Regions from separate parts of the Homo sapiens genome. Here regions 2 and 3 are each linked to region 1. The links come from fine-mapping of genetic effects on gene expression. A gene starts in region 1. Each other region holds a variant in brackets. All regions are shown on one strand. Distances are from middle to middle. Region 1 holds the start of PITRM1 (pitrilysin metallopeptidase 1). Region 2 overlaps PFKP (phosphofructokinase, platelet). Region 3 holds the start of PITRM1-AS1 (PITRM1 antisense RNA 1).

The links. PIP is the estimated chance that this variant, and not a neighbour inherited with it, causes the effect.
Region 2: its variant is fine-mapped to the expression of PITRM1 in skin (TwinsUK, PIP 0.95).
Region 3: its variant is fine-mapped to the expression of PITRM1 in whole blood (TOPMed, PIP above 0.99).

What each region holds. Positions count from the first base shown.
Region 1 is chr10:3,169,115-3,176,572 of GRCh38, reverse strand. PITRM1 (pitrilysin metallopeptidase 1) reads left to right here and starts at 3,791. Exons shown (of 27, transcript NM_014889.4): 1 at 3,791-3,856; 2 at 6,367-6,469. The coding sequence starts at 3,801. RefSeq lists enhancers at 2,241-2,778, 7,126-7,175 and silencers at 2,977-3,136, 3,427-4,266.
Region 2 is chr10:3,132,692-3,139,923 of GRCh38, reverse strand. It overlaps PFKP (phosphofructokinase, platelet), which reads right to left. Exons shown (of 22, transcript NM_002627.5): 19 at 6,610-6,721; 20 at 5,342-5,441; 21 at 4,086-4,188; 22 at 3,122-3,474. The coding sequence ends at 3,345. PITRM1 (pitrilysin metallopeptidase 1) reads left to right here. Exons shown (of 27, transcript NM_014889.4): 25 at 875-1,020; 26 at 1,587-1,689; 27 at 1,800-2,196. The coding sequence ends at 1,893. SNORD142 (small nucleolar RNA, C/D box 142) reads right to left here and starts at 5,820; the gene lies at 5,626-5,820. RefSeq lists enhancers at 2,940-3,439, 3,440-3,941. The variant C/T (reference allele first, on the strand shown) is at 2,378.
Region 3 is chr10:3,141,437-3,148,620 of GRCh38, reverse strand. PITRM1 (pitrilysin metallopeptidase 1) reads left to right here. Exons shown (of 27, transcript NM_014889.4): 17 at 330-450; 18 at 558-634; 19 at 884-1,049; 20 at 1,371-1,471; 21 at 2,905-3,025; 22 at 4,255-4,329; 23 at 5,120-5,232. PITRM1-AS1 (PITRM1 antisense RNA 1) reads right to left here and starts at 7,020. Exons shown (of 4, transcript NR_038284.1): 1 at 6,852-7,020; 2 at 5,533-5,649; 3 at 4,635-4,765; 4 at 1-3,650. RefSeq lists enhancers at 6,279-6,778, 6,779-7,184. The variant C/T (reference allele first, on the strand shown) is at 4,454.

The sequences.
Region 1 (7,458 bases):
GCCATTAATAGTCAGTGTGCTGACATTCCATACATTTCTATAATCCTACATTTAGAGGCACTGAGCTAATCCCTTGTTTTTAATTTCCGACAATCATCACTTTTAATTTATGATGAATTCAGAAATAAAGGGTTTCCAAAAGCATGTATTATGTTCATGACATGTAACCTTGGAAAACACCATATTTGGTTAAATCACTGCATATTTTTCTTTCAGAGGTAAAAGTGCTTTGACATCTCTGTATTTGTTTGCTAAAGCCAGGGTAACAAAGTACTGCAAACTGGGTAGATTAGAAAAAAAGAAATTTGTTATGTCGCCGTTGTGGAAGTTAGAAGTCCAGGATCCAGATATCGCAGGATTGCTTTCTTCTGAGCTTGAAGGCTGAGTCTGTTCCATGCTGCATCCTGAAGTTATGGTTATTGGCTGGTGACCCTTAGCATTCCTTGGCTTGTAAAGGTTTCACCCCCAATATTTGCCTTTATCTTCACCTGGCATTTTCCGTGTGTGTGCATGTCTGTCTCTGCATCCAAATTTTCCCTTTTTATAAGGACATGAACCATCCTGGAGTTAGGCCCACCCAATGATGTCATTTTAGCTTAATTATTTCTGTAAAGACCATCTCCAAACAAAGTCACACTCTGAGATACTGGGGGTTAGGACCCCAACATATCTTTTTGAGTAGACACAATTAAACCTTTAATACTTAATATTCACTTGATTGCCCTTCTAAGTTCCAGTCACAATCTATTCTGATTTTTTTTTAAATTGCTTTCTAATTTCGCTAAAACAATGAATTTCACTATAACATAGGATATGTTTTTGTAACATAGCAAATTGCATAGACAAGTTCGGATTTTTAATTTCTGTGTTGGAGTCATTTGTGTTAATATAAACTGAGACTACCTGTAGGTGTTAACATTAGGTTGAATGCTATTCGAAATAATTATTTGTAAATGTTTGGGCATTTGTTTATCTAGGTTATCCATCAGTGACATTTGAATGCTATGGGAACACACTCTGAAGCCTTAATTATTAGACTTACACAGCATCTATTTTCAAAGAAATAAAAACACTATAACCTTCCAGTGTTTCATTTTCCTGGCCACTCACAATAGGGTTAATGATACCCAACTGTCTCCCCCAAGATCAGAGATGTTATGATGACCTATTAATATGTATGACCCATGAAAGGAAAATAATATCTCGGGAACCCAAATCAGTAAGCTAAAGGGAAAAATCAAGCTGGGAACTGTGAAACCTGCCTCCCATTTTATTTCTAAGTAAGACAGCTATAAGGATTTTAAAAAGCCACATACTTTTCTCACAATTTGTCCACAAGGAAATTCCTTGTGGACCAAGGACAGGCAGAACTCAAAGTCATCCTCCTGAGGCTCACGGGTGAGACAAACGCATATCTGATCACTTCCTCTGCCCCATTGTTTCACTGAGTCAGACTAAGGCATCAGTGACTGCTTCTCTACCCTCCTCTCAAATATAAGTTGTGTGTTCAGTGAAAGTCTAATCAGAGACTCAAAATAATGCAACCATTTCCTTCTTATCTACCTACAACCTGGAAGCCCCCACTTGGAGTTGCCCTGCCATTTCGGACCCAACCAATCTACATTTTACATATATTGGTGGATGTCTCATATCTCCCTAAAATGTATAAAAGCAAGTTGTGGCCAGGCGCGGTGGCTCACGCCTGTAATCCCAATACTTTGGGAGGCGGAGGCGGGCAAATCACGAGGTCAGGAGTTCGAGACCAGCCTGACCAATATGGTGAAACCCCGTCTCTACTAAAAATACAAAAAAAAAAAAAATTAGCTGGGCATAGTGGTGGGTGCCTGTAATCCCAGCTACTCGGGAAGCTGAAGCAGGAGACTCGCTTGAGCCCGGGAGGCTGAGGTTGCACTGAGCCAAGATTGCGCCACTGCAATCCAGCCAGGGCGACAGAGTGAGACACGGTATTAAAAAAAAAAAAAAAAAAAAGTTGTGCCACGACCATGTTGGCCACATGTCATCTGGACCTCCTGGGGCTGTGTCATGGGCATGCCCTTAACCTTGGCAAAATTAACTTTCTAAATTGATTGAGACCTAGATCGGATATTTTGTGTGCACACACCCAAATTCTCCCTAGAAGACGGGTGATGCGCAGAGCGTGTTTGTGTCTGTCGCTCCTATTATTGCCTGTGTTCTGGTTCCTTTGGGCTCTTCAATAAGGAGGTACGTGTTTACCTGCAGCCCAGAACTGGCTGCCCTATGGAGAGTTTAGGGTAGACACGTTGGGACTTTTTCCCACAGTATTACCTTCCACATTGCTTCCAAAGTTTTAGCTTGTTCAAGCCGACTGCAGCCATCTACTTACCATTTAATTTTTAATTTTTTTTTTCAGAGCCCATTAGGAGACAGAGGGAGATTTGAGCCTGTTTGTATTCGTGATACAAGGGGAAAAAAAGAGGGAGAAGGTGAAGGGAGGAAGGAAGAGAGGCTCTGAGAAACCCGGAAGGTCAGACTTGGTGCGGACTTCCTCCAAGGGCTACCCCACCCTCTCCAAGCGTGGCTAATCCCAGGGCCCCTTCTGGCCCACAGTGCAGAACCACCCACTCCTACGGGGGCCTCCTTCAGCCTCTCTGGGGGTTCCCAGAAGGGCCCTTGGGCACTTGGGCAATGTCAGGGGGCTCAGGTGCATCTTCCTAGACACGAAACGAAGAGGAAAGCGGAGGCAGCAGCGGGGGCCACAGGCTCCCATGCAGCAGCTCGGAGCTGTGCTGTGCTTCGCTGGCGGCCATCCGTGATACGTGTGACACCGTGGGGCCCTGGCCCTGGGACCTGCCATGCAGCCTTGAGATCTCATCCAAGAAGCCCCCAGACCCCAAGGTTCAGGCCTGGCGGGGCAGCAGAACGCCTTTGGAGCTCAGCTCAGCCCTACAAACAGGACCAACGCCCACACCAAGGCCAGAGAGGGCTACCAAGTTTCACCTGGCCCAGCTTCCGGCAGCCCCCAACCAGGCCACTACCCTCACCTGAACACCGCGGTCCATCACCAAGCCCCACCCACTTCTGCCAGCCCTGCCCCCACAAGGACCCACCTCTCGCATGCAAGCCCCGCCCCCAAGGCCCAGCTCACCTGCAGCCCCGCCCCACCAGGCTCCACCCCATCGCCTGCAAGCCCCATCCCCAAGGCCCAGCTCACTTGCATCCCCGCCCACTAGGCTCCACCCTGTCACCTGCAAGCCCCGCCCCCAAGGCTCAGCTCACTTGCAATCCCCTCTCCCACTGGTCTCCACTCCTCACCTGCAAAGAGCCACCCCTCGCTAAGCCCCTCCCATCACTTGCACAGCCCCACCCAACACAGCACGCCATTCCAGGAGCCCCTCTTTTCACCAGCGCAGCCCCGCCCTTCACCAGGCCCCACTTCATCTGCATACACACGCCTCTCGCCACGCCCCACTTCTCGCCTGCCCACTTCCCCCTCCTATCATCTGTCCACATCCTGCTGCTGGCCGAACCCCGCCCCTTTCGGCAAGACGGCCCCGCCCCTTTCTACCCGTACCACGCCCCTCGCCTTGCCCGCCTCCTTCGGCACGTCGGCCCCGCCCCTCCCGCCCATCTCCGTCCGCACCGCCCTCCCGCCCGTCCCAGAGCAGTGGAGGCCTACCCTTTTCACCTACAGCCTATCGCAGAGGACGTCGCTGTTCGCGTTGACCAATAGGAGTGGTAGCTGTCACGGCAAGCCCCGCCCCGCGCCCTGCGTCGGGTTAAGAGGGGGTTCCTCGCCAGCCAGGTGCTCGTCATGCGCAATGTGGCGCTGCGGCGGGCGGCAGGGCCTGTGTGTGCTGAGGCGGCTGAGCGGCGGGTGAGACGCTGCGACGGGAGGCGCTCGGCGCGCTGGTACCCGGGAGGGGAGGGTCCAGGGCAGGCCGGAGGCGTAGGGGTCCTCGTCCCTGCGCCCGGGGCTGGCAGCTCCCCAAGCTGTGGGCGTCCCGCACCCCGAGCCCTTCCTGGAGCTCCCGCATCCGAGGCTCCGAGGCCGGAGGACCTCGGAGCTCCTTCCTACTCCCAGGGGCGATGCCCCGGGCTGGGGGCCGGGCCTGCCCGCGGCGCTCCCGGCGGGGCCCTCCATTAGCGTGGGCTTTAACGGGGGTAGTAAATGGGGTCGGCATTTGCGGTTCTCGCTGACAGCTTTGCTCCTAGTTCATTTTTGTTGGGAGGCCGAGTCCTTAAGAGACCCGAGGCGCCCACAGCCCATACTTAAAGTCTCGCTGTGTTCAGAGAACTGACGCCTCCCGGAATTGAACTGTTTTGTTTTTTTAATGACTCAATTTATGGGGAAAAAAATGACGAAGCAGTTTAGTGTTCATGGTAATCCACGAGCCCGTGTTTAATATAAGGTAATAGTTCAGCGCTGCCGGCCCAGGCCGGGAGGCACGGGGCGTCCGTGGCATGAGTTCGGCCTGGCCTTACCGCTCAGGAGTTTCCTATCATGTCCTTGATAAGTAACTTCTTAAAACGCTTCTGTCCCATAATTCTGAAATTTGCTAAATCAGTAAGCAAATGTTGGTTATAGCATATCTTCATAATATTGCCAGTGACTGAATAGGTTTTTTCTTCCTGTACATATTATCTTTAAAATAAATATTTCGGTGGGATACATTAATGTAGAAAATCCCATACGACATATAATACAATTGGAGAGAATAATAATTACGTGTTTTTTAAGAGCAGGGATCTTGCTCTGTTTCCCAGGCTGGTTTGATCCCCCTCCTCAGCCTCTCGCATTGCGGGGTTACAGGTGTGAGCCATCTCATTCAGGTGAGAATAATTATTAGAAATAGGTTGGGCGCGGTGGCTCACACCTGTAATCCCAGCATGTTGGGAGGCCAAGGCGGGCAGACCACTTGAGGTCAGGAGTTCAAGACCAGCCTGGCCGACATGGTGAAACTGTCTCTACTAAAAATACAAAAATTAGCTGGGCGTAGTAGTGAGCACTTGTAGTCCCAGCCACTCAGGAGGCTGAGACAGAATTGCTTGAACCCGGGAGGTGGAGGTTGCAGTGAGTCGAGATTGCACCGCTGCACTCCAGCCTGGGCAACAGAGTGAGATCTGTCTCAAAAAAGAAAATTAGTGTCCCTGTGACCAAGTTGAAGATTCCCCTAACTGCTCGTAACTCTCTCCCTCCCTCTTAGATTATCACGGTCATAACATACAGAAATGTCCTTGCTTTTTTTTTTTTTAATATTTTACCATTTTTATGCGTTCTGACAATGTCTTGTTACCTATTTGAATAATACCTGTTTAGGATAATACTGTATCATGTGTATCTTTTGTTTCACGTTATGTGACCCATATCTTTGTTACATGCCACTGTAGGCCCTTATATTGGTAAGGTTTTTTTTTTTTTTTTTTTTTTTTTTTTTTTTTTTTTAATTGAACGATTAGTCCGCACTTTATCCATTCTCTGTCGATACACCTCCGGGTGAGTTGAGTTTGGGACTGTCAGGGTTCGTGCTGACATTTTTGTCTGTGAGTGCTGGGGCCGCAGTGTAAGGTGTGGACGATAGAGACCAAGAGGTGAATGGATTTCCAATCTTCAGCATTTTTTTCTTTTTTTTCCGACAGTCTTGCTCTGTCACCCAGGCTGGAGTGCAGTGGCGTGATCTCGGCCCACTGCAGCCTCCACTTCCCGGGTTCAAGCGATTCTCCTGCCTCAGCCTCCCAAGTATCTGGGACTACAGGCACCTGCCACCACATCAGGCTAATTTTTGGCCAGGCTGGTCTCGAACTCCTGACCTCAGGTGATCCGCCCACCCAGGCCTCCCAAAGTGCTGGGATTACAGACGTAAGCCACCACGCCCGGCCTCTTCAGCCTTTCTAAAGAATGCCAAGTGCTTTTCCAAAGTTATTCCACTTTGTACTCCCTGTAGCAGTGTATGAGAGTTCCCGGTAATATTAGGCTTTTTAAGTTTTCAGCAATTCGGTAGGCATGTAATGGGATTTAACTGTAGTGTGAATTTCTTGGTATACTGTGAAGGCTTTTGAGGATTCTGTGAAGGAAAGAAGCCCTTTTGTTTAAGAGTTGTCTCTTAAACAAGGGGAATTTAAACTGTAATTGTATTATAGTTATTTGTGAACAAGTGTAAAGAAAAGGTTTCCAACATTGAAGCTTTAGTTAAGATAAAGATCATTAAAATGGAAAGGACCTTACCAGAAATCAGTTTTCTGGAATGTGCAAGACTTTGGAAGATGCAATATTTAATTTTTCTTTAATAATCTTTATTACATGAGAGTATTTTCACTATGTGGCTGAATAATGTTAGCCAGATACTTTTCCTGCAACTCATCTAACTTAGATGACTTTTAATCTAGACATGCACACCACAGAGCGTGGCGATGGAACAGTAACCGGGCTTGTGAGAGGGCTCTGCAGTATAAACTAGGAGACAAGATCCATGGATTCACCGTAAACCAGGTATGGGTCGTCCTCGGCACCTCCTTATAAATCCACATACATTGCAGGTGCGGCTTCTGGCCTATGTACGGAGCCCTTCAGGGCGGAGACTAGCGTTTTTGTCCTTGTGTCCCAAGGCCCTGGCCCAGCTCCTGCTGTGTGGCAGCTACTCGGCTGAACAGAGCTTGTGAGTGAAATGAGCCCCAGTCCCTTCCTGGAATCCCGCAAAGCCTGGTTCTTGTGAGATTTTAGAGAGTAACACTTCCAGCTGGGTCTCTGTAATCAGACACACTAGCGTTTCTGCAGCCAAACCTGATGTTTCACTGAGCATGAGCATGAAGACTCACTGCCCTGATCTGTTTAGTCAGGTTTTGCCATCAAATAGCTTGCTCTAAACGTCCGCAGAACCTTTCAGTTTTCTGAGCCATTCGGGTTTCAGAATGATAAAGAAGCAATTGTGGACCTGTACTTACTTGGGTCTGTATTAAAATAGATTCATTTGGTTTTTGTTTTGTTATTTTGCCTAAACCTTTTGCATTGTTTCTATTTAGCATGGTAACTGAAAATGACACGCTTCATGTATTTGGCCAGCTGTTGGCTTTGTGCTATGCTTGATGTTATAGCAAACGTGAAAGACAAACAGCTTACTGTCTAGAAAGACTGCTGCGGCTGTGACCGGAGGCACATGGTGGACGCCACGCGGAGGGCCAAGGACAAGGGCAGGAGGAGGAGTGGGAGCTGCTGCTGCTGGGGGCAGAGGGAAGAGCTCCTGGAGAGGGTGGTGTGAGAACGTGGCTGCCTTCGGTCAGGGCTCCAGCAAGGGAGCCAGGGCAGTGACTAGGGTGCGCCAGACAAGGTCCAGGCATGGGACTCATGAAAAGACTTGGAGCGTTTGTGAAATCCTGCAAAGGCCAGGCAAAGACACTTGGGTTTATGGTACAGGTTACTGTTAATAAGGGCCTCACCCACAGCGGTAGATTCTCCTCCTTTATTTCTCAAATTTTATAGAA
Region 2 (7,232 bases), 37 kb after region 1:
CATAAACATAACACCGTTACTGTAAAGCAATATTCTTGATTTTCTATGGCTTTGCTGCCTAAGAGAACATGTATTCCAACAGTTTTTAAGAAGGAGCCAGCCGGCCGCAGTGGCAAGTGCCTGTGGTCCTAGCTACAGGAGGCTAAGGCGGGAGGATCCCTTGAGCCTGGGGAGGTTGAAACTGCAGTGAGCAGATTGCGCCACTGCACACCAGCCTGGGCGACAGTGAGACCCTGTCCCGTGGATGCATAGCTAGATTAGGTAGGTAGGCAGGCATGTAGGTAGATACGTAGGTAGCCATTGCCACTCTGATGAGTTCTCCCCCTTGCTGTGCTGGAAGCCATGCTTCTAGACAAGGATGGGGAAGCAGCTCACAGCCGCCCCTCTGCAGCTCAGGGTGAAGGGAGGGCTGGGCTCTTTGCATTTACACGAAGGGAAGTCTGGATTGGCCCCCTCAGGCTGATTCCTGTACTACCCTGGGTGTGTCTTCAGGGAGATGAAAGGAAAACCTTTGTTTGCTTAATTTTTCCATGTAAGTCTTTGTAATTTCCCTGTAATCCTGACCTGCCCCTACCCTCCACTGACTTTCCTCTCCTGATGAGGTCACAGAGAAGTGTATTTAAATAATCTAGGGAGGACTTTGTGCAGACAGACCTTGTCTAAGAGGGAGAACATGTTGAAAGGCTTATGTGATCAGATTTAAATTTCCATTGAGAGTAATTGAGCGATTTGTCAGTGGGCTGTTTGGACTAAATCAGATATAAAATAGAGCTGTTAACCCATAGAAGATGTTGAACTGTTAAGTCGACAGAGGTTTGTCATAAACTTGTCCACTGGTAAAATGCTTGCCCGTTTATTTCTCTGGGTTTCCTAGGGACCCAAATACAATAGAGACGCTCCAGTCTTTTGGGAAGGCTGTCGACTGGGCTAAGTCTGGAAAATTCACACAGCAAGACATCGACGAAGCCAAACTTTCTGTCTTCTCAACCGTAGATGCTCCTGTCGCTCCTTCAGACAAAGGTATTTTGAGTATAACAGTGAGAATCTCAACCCACAGCCTCACAGATGACGTTGCTGTTTTCCAAGTTCCCGGCATGCATGGGCAGGAGCACTAGCTTCTGGTGCCTCCATCCTTGCTTGTGATACGATTTCCACGTCTGACACCCTAAACACGCTTCCTGACATCCGGGCGAGAAGAGTGCATCCTGTCATTTGTTTTACTGACCTGAGACCCAGTGGGGCCAACCCATGGCAGTGTCCGGGCTCTTTAGGGTGGAAGGAGGACGTGGGCACGGCCCGGGCATGGCCACGTTACTCTCTGGAGCCGCTTTTGCTCACAGCATCATCAGCCTCACGCGGCGCTGACTGCATCCCTGCTGCAGAAGCAGGCGTGGGTAGGGGTCAGCGTGGCACGTGGGAGCTGGAGGTCGGGGTGTGATCTCTGGGTTGTTAGACACATCCCTGTGGTTGAAACATGCACGTGAAATGACAGTGAGATGCCTGTGTCCCCTCCGGGACATGAGTGCACAGCCCACAACGCGAGCTCCCGGGCAGCGGCTCCATCGTGCCTGTGGATTGTCTTCTAGGAATGGACCACTTCTTGTACGGCCTCTCGGATGAGATGAAGCAGGCCCACAGAGAGCAGCTCTTTGCTGTCAGCCACGACAAGCTCCTGGCCGTGAGCGATAGGTGAGTGGGGAGCGGGGGAGACAGCGTCTGGGACTGGAAGCCCTCGTGCTGACTCTAACAGCGCTCACGCAGAAGCCAGTCCTTGCTGACCACGCCTGCCTTCCTCTCAGATACCTCGGCACTGGGAAGAGCACACACGGCCTGGCCATCCTCGGACCCGAGAACCCGAAAATTGCCAAGGACCCATCCTGGATCATCCAATGAGCAGCCGTGGCGCTCGACTGCACAGGAGCCCGAGACAATACACCTCCGAGCTGAATATGAAAAGTCAGAAATGCTACTGCTTTTTCCAAGAATATTATGTCATTGAGTGTCGCCAAAGCCCTTGACTGGCGAGTCAAAAACTCAGATCTATCTTAAGAGTGACCAGGAAGAGGTTCATTGAAATAATCATGCATGAAGCGCCAAAGATGCACCATGTAGAATTTTCACTTTGTACTGGCAGGCTCGTTTTACCTCATTCTAGAATATTTAAGAATCTAAAAATAAAGGGCAACTCTGACTTAACCTCTGCTTGAGTCATTATTTTAAGCAGCATTTAGGGCCTTTATTTAAAAACAGAAGTAAAATGAAAAGGTGCACAAGGGTGTCCCACGTCTGCCTGCGCTGATTCAGGAAACTCCATCACACCGAGGCCCTGGGGGAGTGTCCACCAGACGGGAGTTCACCGCGGCGGCTGCATGGAAAC[C/T]GTCCTGAGAAGCAAGTGGGTTGGGGTGAGTAAGCGCTTGCTTCATCGTTACAGAGCCAGAAAGGAAAGCCTCCGCGCTAGCTCTTTCTTGGCTGTCGGACTCTGATTTCCCAAACAGAGTTTGTTTTTGGCCTCTCCTCTCCCTCCACCCAGCTCTCTGCCCCCATTTCTGAGGCGCAGCTGTTCTCTCTTGCAGACTAGAGCTAAGAGGCAGAAACGCTGTCCCTACAGGAGGGGGGCCCACCAGGGCAGCAGGGCTGTCATCCCAGCAGCCGTGTCTACTCTGGCAGGAGTCTTCCGGAGAGTTCCAACCTAGGTCCCAGCGAGGACTGTGGCTTGGCCTGGAGGAGAAGCTGGCTATCAGATTTTTGAACCCACCTCCGCCCCACCCACCCCTTGGTGGTTTTAACATGCAGCTAGGATTGCAATCAAGAGGACAAGTAACTAAGATTCATGTTTTACTTTCAAAGGAGAGCAGGAGCCTGGGGTCGAGGCCCAGGGTCCCGGCCTGCTGCTGTGGATGGAAACTGACACATGGCAGATATGGAATGGTGAGTAAACGTGGCCTTCCCCTTGGCCTGTGTGAACTCCTGGCTTTGTTCTCCTTGTATGACGTGTGCATAGTTCAGTGATCCCTATAAAAATATTTTGCTAATCTTTGCCCACAAAACTGAGAAAACCTTTAGTAGCCACCCATAGATTGAGGTACTAATCTCCTACTTAAAAAACTAAAACAGAGGACTGTTGGAGTCATAGGCAAATGTTTAATTAATTCTGCTCATATGCACATCTGAAAGCATGAGACACACTCCACAGACAGCACGCACTGGAGCAGGTGGGGCAGATGGGCACTCGCCGATTAGGTATTAATGTCAATAATACGTGCATAAAGTGCTGATAAAATAACTTAAGTGTTACAAAAACAGACAGTCCACGGTGGCTGCAGGCACATGCAGGCGGGACTGGGTCAGACACTCCAGGGCTGCACATGTTCCAGCTGGCCTGAGTCCGACACGTCATAGCTGGCCTTGTACTTGGCCAGGATTTTCATGAGGGGCCGTAGCTTGAGCCACCACTGTTCTTTGGGAATCCTGTGCCTGTGGAGGTAAGAGGAGACAGCAGTGAGGCCTGCAGTCACTGGCGGGAGATGCCTCCGCCTGGCCAGCACAGCGAGCGGTCTTGCCAGAAACACAGGGTTTGTAGGGTCGGCTGAATCAACTAGATGATAAAGCCAATTTCAGGATCAAATGAAACCATTGTTTAAAATTATTCCCGAAGACCCAGTGGTGGAGTCTCGCTCTGTCGCCAGGCTTGAGTACAGTGGTGCAATCTCAGCTCACTGCAACCTCTGCCTCCCGGGTTCAAGCGATTTCTCCTGCCTCAGCCTCCTGAGTAGCTGGGACTACAGGTGTGCATCACCATGCCTGGCTCATTTTTGTATTTTTAGTAGAGATGGGGTTTCACCATATGAGCCAGGTTGGTCTCGATCTCTTGACCTTGTGATCCACCTGTCTCGGCCTCCCACAGTGCTGGGATTATAGGCATGAGCCACCGCGCCCAGCCAAGACCTAGTATTTTTTTAACTGAGCTTCAGAAAAGCCAGTTCCTCAAACCCCTGAATGAGTTGCCGACAGCAACAGCAATGGCCATTCCCCTGTCCCGTACTCACATTGGGGTCTTATTGCCTCAGGGAACCCAGCCAACTTACTCAAAATCCGTTTGCTTCTTCAGCTCTGCCACAGGTTGAAAAATAACGTTTCTTTTGCTTATTCCCAGCACACAAATGGAATCATCGGTGGTAAATTTTTTTCCTATAAAAGATTTTAAAAAAGATTAATAACACCCTGTCAACATGGGCAGGTGGGGGAGCAGAATCACGGGGCGAGATGAGAACTGAGATTCCTCAGAACCATGCTGAACCCGGCCTGGAAGCCCAGTGAGACTGAGAACAGCCGCGCAGTGGGGCCAGCACCTGGCCTCGTGCAGCTCTGCTCCTGTGGGACTGCCCCGAGGGCTTCCTGGAAAGCAGCTTTTGTTTTTTCCTCCCAGTGGAGAGAATTTTTCACTAAATAGTGGAATAGGGAAATTAGCTTAAATTACAGGACACTAATTTATGCTCACACATACACACACTGAGAGGCAAAAAGCATCCATAGCTAAATTAGCAAAAGAAAATCGCTGTAGAAAGAATCAAAGCCAAAGTCAGTTCTTCAAAAAGACAAACCCATTGAAACTATTCACATCACTGGTTTTTATAGACTGTCATTTTTCTAAGTTGGACACTGGCAGTGATAGTGGTTTGCCGGAATAAAAGCACACATCTGCTATGACTGATTAAGAAAGCTGAGGGGGGTGGGGGTGAGAAAGATGCTGGCACAAAGAGCCACTCAGGAATGAGTGGGGAACAGCCATGTTGGAGCCATTAACAAGAGTATTATAAAAAAGTCATGTTTCTTGAAACTTCAGTTTAAAGATTTCTTAGAATATGTAACTTACAGAACTGATTTAAGGAAGAACATGCACAGTTCTACGAACATGCAGTTCTACAAACATGAACAATTCATTCAGCAGTCAGATCTTCCTCAAAACTGGAAGTTTTGATGGATAGTCACAAGGAGGTTGTCCTAGCAAACATTCAAAAAATAGAAGGCCCCACTTAAACTGTGAGGGGAAATTGCTGGCCAACGTTCAGGATCTCTAGAGCAAAAAGCCTGCACAAAAGAACTGCAGACTGCATCTAGCAGTGATAAAAGAGAACATGTCATACCCAAGCTGATCTTATCCCAGGAATCCAAGGTTGGTTAAATAGCAACACTCAGAGATCAGGAGTAAAACATCACGTGCAGCTCAGTACTGAACTGAAGAAGGAACCAGCACCCTACTTCTCCCCGATAGGACAGCATTTTCACCAAGGCAGGACGGCCTGCATCACGAGGCTGTGGCCTCCCTCCCCAGACCCCTTACCTCTGCCCCGGGCCTCCTTGAGTTTTGCAGTGATCCACTCCATAGCTCTGGCAGAGATTTTGGTTCCAAAGTTTCTATCAAATGGAGAGGGTGCCCCACCCTGTTGGTGGTTAGAGTTATATGAAATACCAGTTATACAGTAACACTTTGCTGTTAAATAGAAATGACAATTTCTATTTTGCAGAATTCATGTTTTTATTTCTAGGTCCTTATAGTTGGAACAGAACAAAACCTGTGATTCCCGTAGCCTGAACTTGGCCTGTTAAGAAAAAGTATCAAGTGTTCCCCCCGCTCAGTAAGATGAGGATTTTAATAAACCGAACAAGTCAACTAACAATCTTCATTATTTTAAAATCTTAAATCAGGATTTCATGAACTCATCTGAGCTGGGGATGGGTCACAGCTTTAATCTGATAACCGTTGTGGATTCTTTAAGAAGATCACACATATGCCTACTATTTCATCATCATTGCAGGGGATTCATGGGCTCTGGCTTAAAAGTATAAGAATAGGAGGTGGTGAGGAAGGAGTGTGTGCAAGTTAGGAGGCCTGGACCCTGTGTCCCAGGCTCAGCTCATAACACGTGTGTGCCTGTGTGCAGCTCATTCCAGGTCATTCTGACTTGGGGTGTCAAGTATACTACATGTCTGATAATCCATTTTAAATCTTAGGGAAGCTCCAGTTTTTAACTTGATGAAGTGTTTAATTTGAATAAGCATTTCCAAGTAATGGGGGTATCACTGTTTTCATGAAAGCTGACAGTTCCCTTAAAATCCCCATTACTCAAACCTCACCAACAAAAGAATCCTAAAGCTGGTGATGTTTGGCATCACTTAAAAGTTCAGATGTTTTGGCTGGGCACAGTGGCTCAGGCCTGTATTCCCACCACTTTGGGAGGCTGAGGTGGGTGAATCATCTGAGGTCAGGAGTTTGAGACCAGCCTGGCCAACGTGGTGAAACCCCATCTCTACTAAAAATACAAAAATTAGCTGGGTGTGGTGGTGGGTGCCTATACTGCCATCTCCTCGGGAGGCTGATGCAGGAGAATCACTTGAACCTGGAAGGTGGAGGTTGCAGTGAGCCAAGCTTGTACCACTGCACTCCAGCCTGGGCAACAGAGCAAGACTCTGTCTCAAAAAGTTCAGATGTTTTTTATCATCTTGGAATTTACTTATACATTTTTCCCCACAATGGCTAAAATAAGACACTAATCTTTTAAAAGTCACATGACAGGGGCTTTGTGGCCCCTCATGCAGTCTCGGGCCTACCTGCTGCATGTGACCCAGCACGTTCTTCCTGCAGTCAAACACGCCTTTGCCCTCTTCTGAATACAGCTGGTAAATGAAGTCGGTGGTGTAGTTTTCACTGCAGCTCTCATTTCTGAAACGAGCGAGAAGGAGTCACTTTGTTTAGCGTGCAGTGGGCACGTGGCTCCCTGCTTGGGGAGATGGCCCTGGGAGGCTGGACTCCCGCATCCCCCAACCCTATGGTGATTCTACATCAACACCAGTCCCTCCAGTTCACGGTTTTGCTTTCTGCAGTTTGTTACCCATGGTCCAGTGGTCAACTGAGGCCCACAAATATTAAATGGAAAATTCCAGAAATAAATATGTAAGTTTTAAATTGCACACCATTCTGAGTAGCGTGATGAAATCTCGTGCTCTCTTGCTGTCCCACCCAGAACGTCAATCATCCCTGTGCCCTGCATCTCCATGCTGTCTGTGCCTCCTGCCCGAGTCACTCAGTAGCCACCTTGGTTATCAGATGGAAGCAACCTCGTGTATACAGGGGGCGGGTACTATCCCCAGGTTCAGACACCCACTGCAGTCTTGGGACACAGTCCCTGAGGCTAAGAGGGATGACTGTATTTCCTTCTTTCTTCATAAACATC
Region 3 (7,184 bases), 28 kb after region 1:
ATAAAACATTTATTGAAGAGCTTACAACTGGAAATGCCTATTTTAGAATGGTGTTTTAAGTGCAGACACTGGCTGCCCAAGTGTCTTGTGCCTCTGGACGCTAACTTCCTAGGCGGGAGAAACTGGGGTCTCCCTGGGGAAGGGGGCACATGAACTCTCGAGGGCGAAGGCCAGAGTGCACCTGCTTATGACCTTCGAAGTGTAGAGAGGTTGGCAAAGCCGCAGTTATTGAATTAATGGAAGCAACTTGTAACTCAAGATGCACGATTTTAAAAATGATTCAGTAAAGACTGACTTGTAATCGGGGCGATGCTTCTCTGCTGTGTCAGGCTGGGCTGCGGCCTTCTTGACTACCGGGAGCAGGCTCAGCAGATAGAATTGAAGACCGGAGGGATGAGTGCTTCTCCCCACGTGCTCCCCGACGACTCACACATGGACACCTACGAGCAGGTAGCCTGGTACCGTCAGACGACTGCTGCGGTGGGAAGCTTTTCTCCAGTGTCTGTCACTGTTCGATTCGGCCCTAATTCCTTTCTTCTGTGTTTTCTTTGGTTCAGGGTGTGCTTTTCTCCTCTCTCTGCCTGGATCGAAACCTGCCAGACATGATGCAGCTATGGAGTGAAATATTTAACAAGTAACTTTATTTGCAAGAGTTGTCCATTCTTGGGGTGTACTAGAGATCTTTGTTTGAAGTACTTTAAAGGAGACAGTTTTACTCGTGTGTGTTGTTGTTTTCCAAGTCTGACTTTTACTTGTAGTTCATATGGACTTATAAAATTTCTTTGGTTGTTAAAGTACTCTGAAAACTTAATCAACTTTCCATGATACTGAAGGGACGTGAGGAATGGGTCTCCAGGAATTTTTTCTTCTCCTTTTTCCATAGCCCGTGCTTTGAAGAAGAGGAGCACTTCAAGGTGCTGGTGAAGATGACCGCCCAGGAGCTCGCCAATGGAATTCCTGACTCTGGGCACCTGTACGCATCCATCAGGGCAGGCCGGACCCTCACGCCCGCAGGGGACCTGCAGGAGACCTTCAGCGGGATGGATCAGGTGGGAAGCTTGGAAGGAACCTCTATTACTCCGGTTTAGCCACATATTCCAGAGTTACTAATTTCTTTGGGAATACATTAATTTATGTCCCAGAAATGCTAACTTTCTAACTGACTAAATATGGGGAAGAATTGGTTGGTTGGTTTTGACTCATCTTCCTCTTTGTACCACCCTGCATCCCAGTTCCAGCCCTGCCCAAGCCGTGCACTCGCACACATAACCCCTGCCCAAGCAGGGTTCTGATGTCACAGGTGCTTGGTTCAGACTCAGCGGGTCTGTTGTAGCCTCTGCCTCTCTCTGAGCGAGTTTCCTCTGGCTTAGGTGCGGCTGATGAAGAGGATTGCAGAAATGACAGATATCAAACCCATCCTGAGGAAGCTCCCGCGTATCAAGAAACACTTGTTAAATGGTGATAATATGAGGTGCATGTGTGATTTGTTTCTAAATATTTTATGATTCATTCTATTAAGTATAGTTTTTAGGTATTTCTTACTTGTAGAAACTTCAAGATAGAGTGCTTGGTAAAGGTTATAGAATTTATTGTAAATGTCAAGTGTTCTAACAAACTAAGAAAATATTTTAAGCCTATTAAAAGTTGTAGGAGATGGGGAAGAAAGCAGGCTAATTTTGTGCTAGAAGTGCAAATAGATTGAGGGCAAGTAGTTATATTGCTTCCAAAAGCACATGGTCCGTAACTGAGGTATCTGTAAAGGTGAGCTTGCTGAAGACCAGAGTAAAAGTGCAGTTTCTTATAAAATTATGTGATGCTTTGAGGAAACATCTGGCAGCTCAGTCCTATACCTTCAGTTGGCCTTATGCCCTCAGATGTGTGAGCATGAATAAAGTTTAAAAATGATTGTTTATTTTCAGCATCTTATTGTCAGTGACATTGATGTATTCATCAGTACTTAACAAGAAAATGTTTGCTGAAGTCACTTGTCCTTCTTCACACAGAGTCCTGATGCCTTTCCCCAGTCATGTCCTGAGAATCCCTGGCAGATTCTACAGGGCGGTCTGTGGGTGGCCAGAGGTGAAGCCTGGCGATCAGGGTCTCTTGGCATTGGGCTCAGGCAGGCCTGGCTTCTGGTGCCGCCGGGTCAGCACTCACACTCGCTCCCAGGCGGTCCTGGGCAGCTGACCCACTTGCGTCTTCTGCTTCCTCCTCCATAAAACCTTCCTTTGCAGGTTTATCGTAAGGAATAAAAGAAAGAATATCTGCAAGGCAGCATACATGCCTGGGATATAGTTAGTATTAATATAATGGTACCTGCTGTTACTTTAACTAGAATAAGTTCAGGATTTACAGCTGAAAGGAAAAAATATACACTCTGTCAATATACTGTAGAGTTCAAGTAGCTTTTATATGATAGTAGTATTTGCAATTCTGTGGAATTTGGAAGAGTTCTATTTTCATGTAACTTTGAGAGCATGGTATTTTTTTGCAGTTTATAATGTTCTGCTTTAACAACCAGTTCACATTTTCAAATTGATGACTTCTGGACAGTAATTTTAAAAGTTGTCAGTGTTTTGATAGTGTAATTCCGAAGGCACGGTTAGCAGATCTTAATAGTCTCTGTATTTTCTTTGCTCTTCAGAAGAACTAGAGTTTAGAGTCACAGGCTCCGCGTATGGACGGCTTCATTAGCTGCCACATTGAACTGTGCGGAAATCTCTTGATAACCTGAAGCACTGAAGAGCAGGGAGGCGGCCGTGGCATTTCCACATTTGGCTGCTGTTTAACACTCTGAACAGTATTTTCTATAAAAACAACATTATTGAGTTATACAAAATGTGATGAATTACTAAAACTGTTTTTTCTAACAGTGGTTTTATGTATACATAATTTTTCAAACAGGTGTTCAGTGAATGCGACTCCTCAGCAGATGCCTCAGACAGAAAAAGCGGTCGAAGACTTCCTTAGAAGCATCGGTCGGAGTAAAAAGGAACGGAGGCCTGTGCGCCCACACACGGTCGAGGTATGCACTGGTGGTGCTGGCGCCCGGTGAGCGCCTGGTGGGTGCCAGAGCAGCTCTCATGTTTTACACGCATTAACTCAATTCTCAGAGCAGTCCAGCATGTGGGGGTTCATATCCCCCGTACGCAGATGAAGAAACTGAGGTTCAGGAGGATTAAGTATCTTGTGCAGTGTTGGGCCAGTTAAGTGAGTTCAGACCCTGCGGTGTGGCCTTAGATCCCGCGCTCACTTCTGTGCCTTGCAGTGAGTAGTCTGATAGGAAAACAGACTTTGGCTGGAATACGCTGGCAGAGGAATGGCCCAAACCGTAGCCTGAAGGCTGTTCACTGCTGTTTCTTTGACTCATGAATCCATGGATTTGACATGGAACAGTGATGTCGGTGATAACTAACTTAGTAAATTTGATTAACTTAGAGAGTTGTAGTCTAGTTCATGGATGTCAGTAGAGAAGCCGTGCTGCTCCGTGGAGGAGGTTGACGCTCATGTCTTCTCCGTTGGTGTCTGCGTATCCCTGGTTCAATTCTGGATGTGGTCTCTCTGTTGGCCCCTGGGAGTGGAGCCTTTGGGAGGTGGCCTCCTGCTGCTCCAGGCCCCTCTGCCTGCAACCCTTTCACCTTAAATGTCCTCTTGATTTGACAGATTAATGACAAGAAAGTGCAGAAAGAAAGGTTAAAATATTTTCTTTGTACCATATAACAAGGCTACCTTTTCCTTGACTGTCTGAAAATTTATTTTAATATTTTCTTAATTTCTTTTACTCACTTTATTTCTTTTTTTAGTTTTTGTTATTTTGAGACAGGGTCTGTCTCTGGCACTCGGGCTGGAGTGCAGTGGTGCCATTACAACTAGCTGTAGCCGTGACCTCCTGGGCTCAAGTGATCCTCCAATCTCAGCCTCCCAAGTAGCTGGGGCTACAGGTGTGCACCACCATGCCCAGCTAATTTTTAAAAATTTTTTGTTGAGATGGGAGCTCACTACATTGCCCAGGCTGGTCTCAGACTCCTGGACCCAAGCAATCCTCCCACCTCAGCCTCCAAAGTGCTGGCATTATAGGCATGAGCCACTCTGCCCAGCCTATTTTTATTTTTTTTAAGCGTTTATTATTTAAAACACTTACACCTGCCCTAACACTTGTTATTAGCTGTGTGAATTTTATAAACTCTGTTACTTCTTATATATTTCAAGTGAGTTCTGGATTTTTCTCTTTTCTCTTGGAAACTTGATTTTCAGAAACCTGTGCCCAGCAGCTCTGGTGGAGATGCCCACGTTCCCCATGGCTCCCAGGTCATTAGGAAGCTGGTCATGGTAAGAACCACAGCCCATCCGGGTTGCCAGCGGGTGGGTGCTTCCCTGCATGGCTGTGTCTGCCACTGATGTTCGAATGTTCCTCCGTCCGCCTGTCTGTGGGGCTGGCGTGTCCCTAGAGTTG[C/T]GAGTTCAGTGCATCCTTTGTCACTGCCACCCTGAGCCTTTTCTCTCTCAGACAGTACTGAGTGAAGGCCCTGGTGGGGGTGTGTCCTCCTGTGCCGAGGAGGGCCCTGGTATGGGGTGCGTCTTCCCTGTGCCCAGGAAGAGGGCTACTGCTCTGGGTGGTCTCCTCCCGGGCAACTCACCCTTCTTTGAACGTAGCTCCCGAGCTGAGTCGATGCCAGTGGAGCGGTCTGACAGATCCTTTCCGCGACTCAGCCTGGTGCTGATGCTGTTTGGTTTGGTTCCTTGTGGAGTAGAGTGATTTAACACATTCCTATGATATAATATGATATGAAATATAAATATGTAACTGTGATATAAACGGCGTAGAATGAAATGTTTTTAATTGAACAGTATACGTTAAGGCATCACGTCAAGATTGGAGGACTTCATGTCAGTTTTACAGTGAGAAATTGTGTGGAGTGACGGAACTGCAGTGCCTTGCTCTCGCGCCCCAGCACCTGGCTGCAGAGTGTCACGGAGATGGGACCCCTGAGATGGCTCCAGTCCCAGTGCCGTGGGCAGTGCGTGGGAGCACAGCCGCCTCTGACCCCTGAGTGGGTCCAGTCCCAGTGCCGTGGGCGGTGCATGGCAGCACAGCCGCCTCTGACCATACCGTGTCCCTCAGGAACCCACCTTCAAGCCCTGGCAGATGAAGACTCACTTCCTGATGCCCTTCCCGGTGAATTACGTGGGTGAATGCATCCGAACTGTCCCCTACACGGACCCAGATCATGCCAGGTAGGAGGGTGTAGGTCGGGACCTCTCAGGCCTGAGCCTTACGGAAGAGCTTGTCAAGGCTGTTCGAGTTCACAGGGCGTGTTTTAGCACAGGAAAAGTCTGTGCTGACTCTGAGTGTTGGACCTGGGGCTGTGTGAGTCTACGAGTGCTCCTCTTTAACCAGCAGTCTTTGTGAACAGAGACCCAGTTTTAGAGCCAGTCATTTTTGTAAACAATTTCTATTATTGAGGAGTCCTATGAACAATACAGATACCTATGACCTTAAACACAGACTGCTTTCAACATGCCCCATGTACTCACCTCATCTCTAGGTAAAAATCGAATGAATTTAGGCTGAGATTTCTGATAAACATGGTAGGTTAAGCCTTCATGAGGACAGATGCGTGAATGACAGCAAAGGCAGATCAAGACACGAAGCTACAAGGGAAAGAGTGGGAGGTGACCCGGAGAGCCATGGGGGCTGCAGGAGAACCTCGTGAGCCAGACTCTGGGTGGGTGGGGGGTGCCTGACCTGGGGCCACAGAGGGACAGGGCAGTGGGGAGAAACCAGGTGGTCCTGCAGAGCCCTGCAGATGGCAGGGCTGGAGGCCGCCTCACAGTCCCTCTAAGGAGTTTGTCTCCCCTGTCTCCCCACCAAGTCAGAAGCTCAGGGAAGGAGGCCCTGGGTTGAGCAGCCGAAGCCACAGCCAAGAGTCAGGGTCAGGCCTGTTCCCAAAGTGGCGTGGGGCGAGGGAGTTTGCAGCCTACAGACTGGCCCTCCAGCCCCTTCTTCCGAACTCTGGCTGCCCCTTGGCTGTGTTCATCCCATCTGGGGAAACTGGCCAGACCAGGACAGACTCACAGACGTGCACCTTTGGGGACCCGTCAGTTGGGTGTGTATGACACAGATATGTGCAAACATGTTATATCCCGGAAATTCACTTCCTGTGTCCTTGTCCCAGGCAGCTACCCCCATGAGGGACTAAACCAAGGAGTGAGCCTGGTAGAGAGGGGGAAGGCAGGCTTAGGCCTGGGCAGCCTGTCCTGATTGGAGAAGGAGCCGGGCCTCCGAGGTGCACGTGTGTCACAGAGGGTCACAGATGGGGAGGTGTGTAGGAGGCAGGCGGGAAGAAACGTGGGGCTGCAGTGGGGGCCCAGAAAGAGCTGGCTGTAGAAGTATGTGGTCAGCTGTTTTGTTCATTTATTTCCATATTTGTAGAAGATGAACAGATCTGTCTGCTATGCCGGCAGAAGAGTGGTGTCTGTTTCCACTATCCAACAGGAAAATGTAGACAGAAAACACTAAAAATGTGGAGGTTCCCCCTGGGCAGTGGGATTCCAGATCTTTTTTTCCTTGTGTTTTGTATTTTATAATCTTTCAAAAGTGAGCATGTTTTTAATATACAAGTAATAGAAATTTCTCAGGAAGGATAATGTGTGGACGGATGGAACGCCATCCCTGCCGGTGCTGGTGGAGACTCCGTCCCCCAGGGTCTGACTCCAGCCTCGCTAGTCCCGGCTGACGGCGCCCCAGCCACCCGAGTGGCGCTGGGTTTCTCCTGGAGGACCCACACGAGATGGTCGTGACTTCTCCCACCACAGCCCCTGGGAACACGCCCACTCCTTCCTTGATTTCCCACCTGGCCTATTTGACTCCCTTCATCCACTTTAGGAAAAGGCCTGTCTGTGGAAGCGGCGACCTGGGGCTGATCTCACCACGGGCGTCTTCAAGGAGCCTGTGTCTGTGCTGCAGACCCTCCCATCATTGTCTGCCCCGCCTTCTGTCGGAGGTGGATGTGTTCTAGAATCAGCTTGAATGTGATGTTACCGTTCACAGTGGAAGGCAGAGGAAATTGGCCCTGTTCCTAGAAATGTGCTTTATCAGAGAGTGTGTGTTTTCTTAAGGGATTCTTATAAAACTCACTTCAGTTTCCTTTCTTTCCATATTCTGATGTGAGACATTTAAATAAATG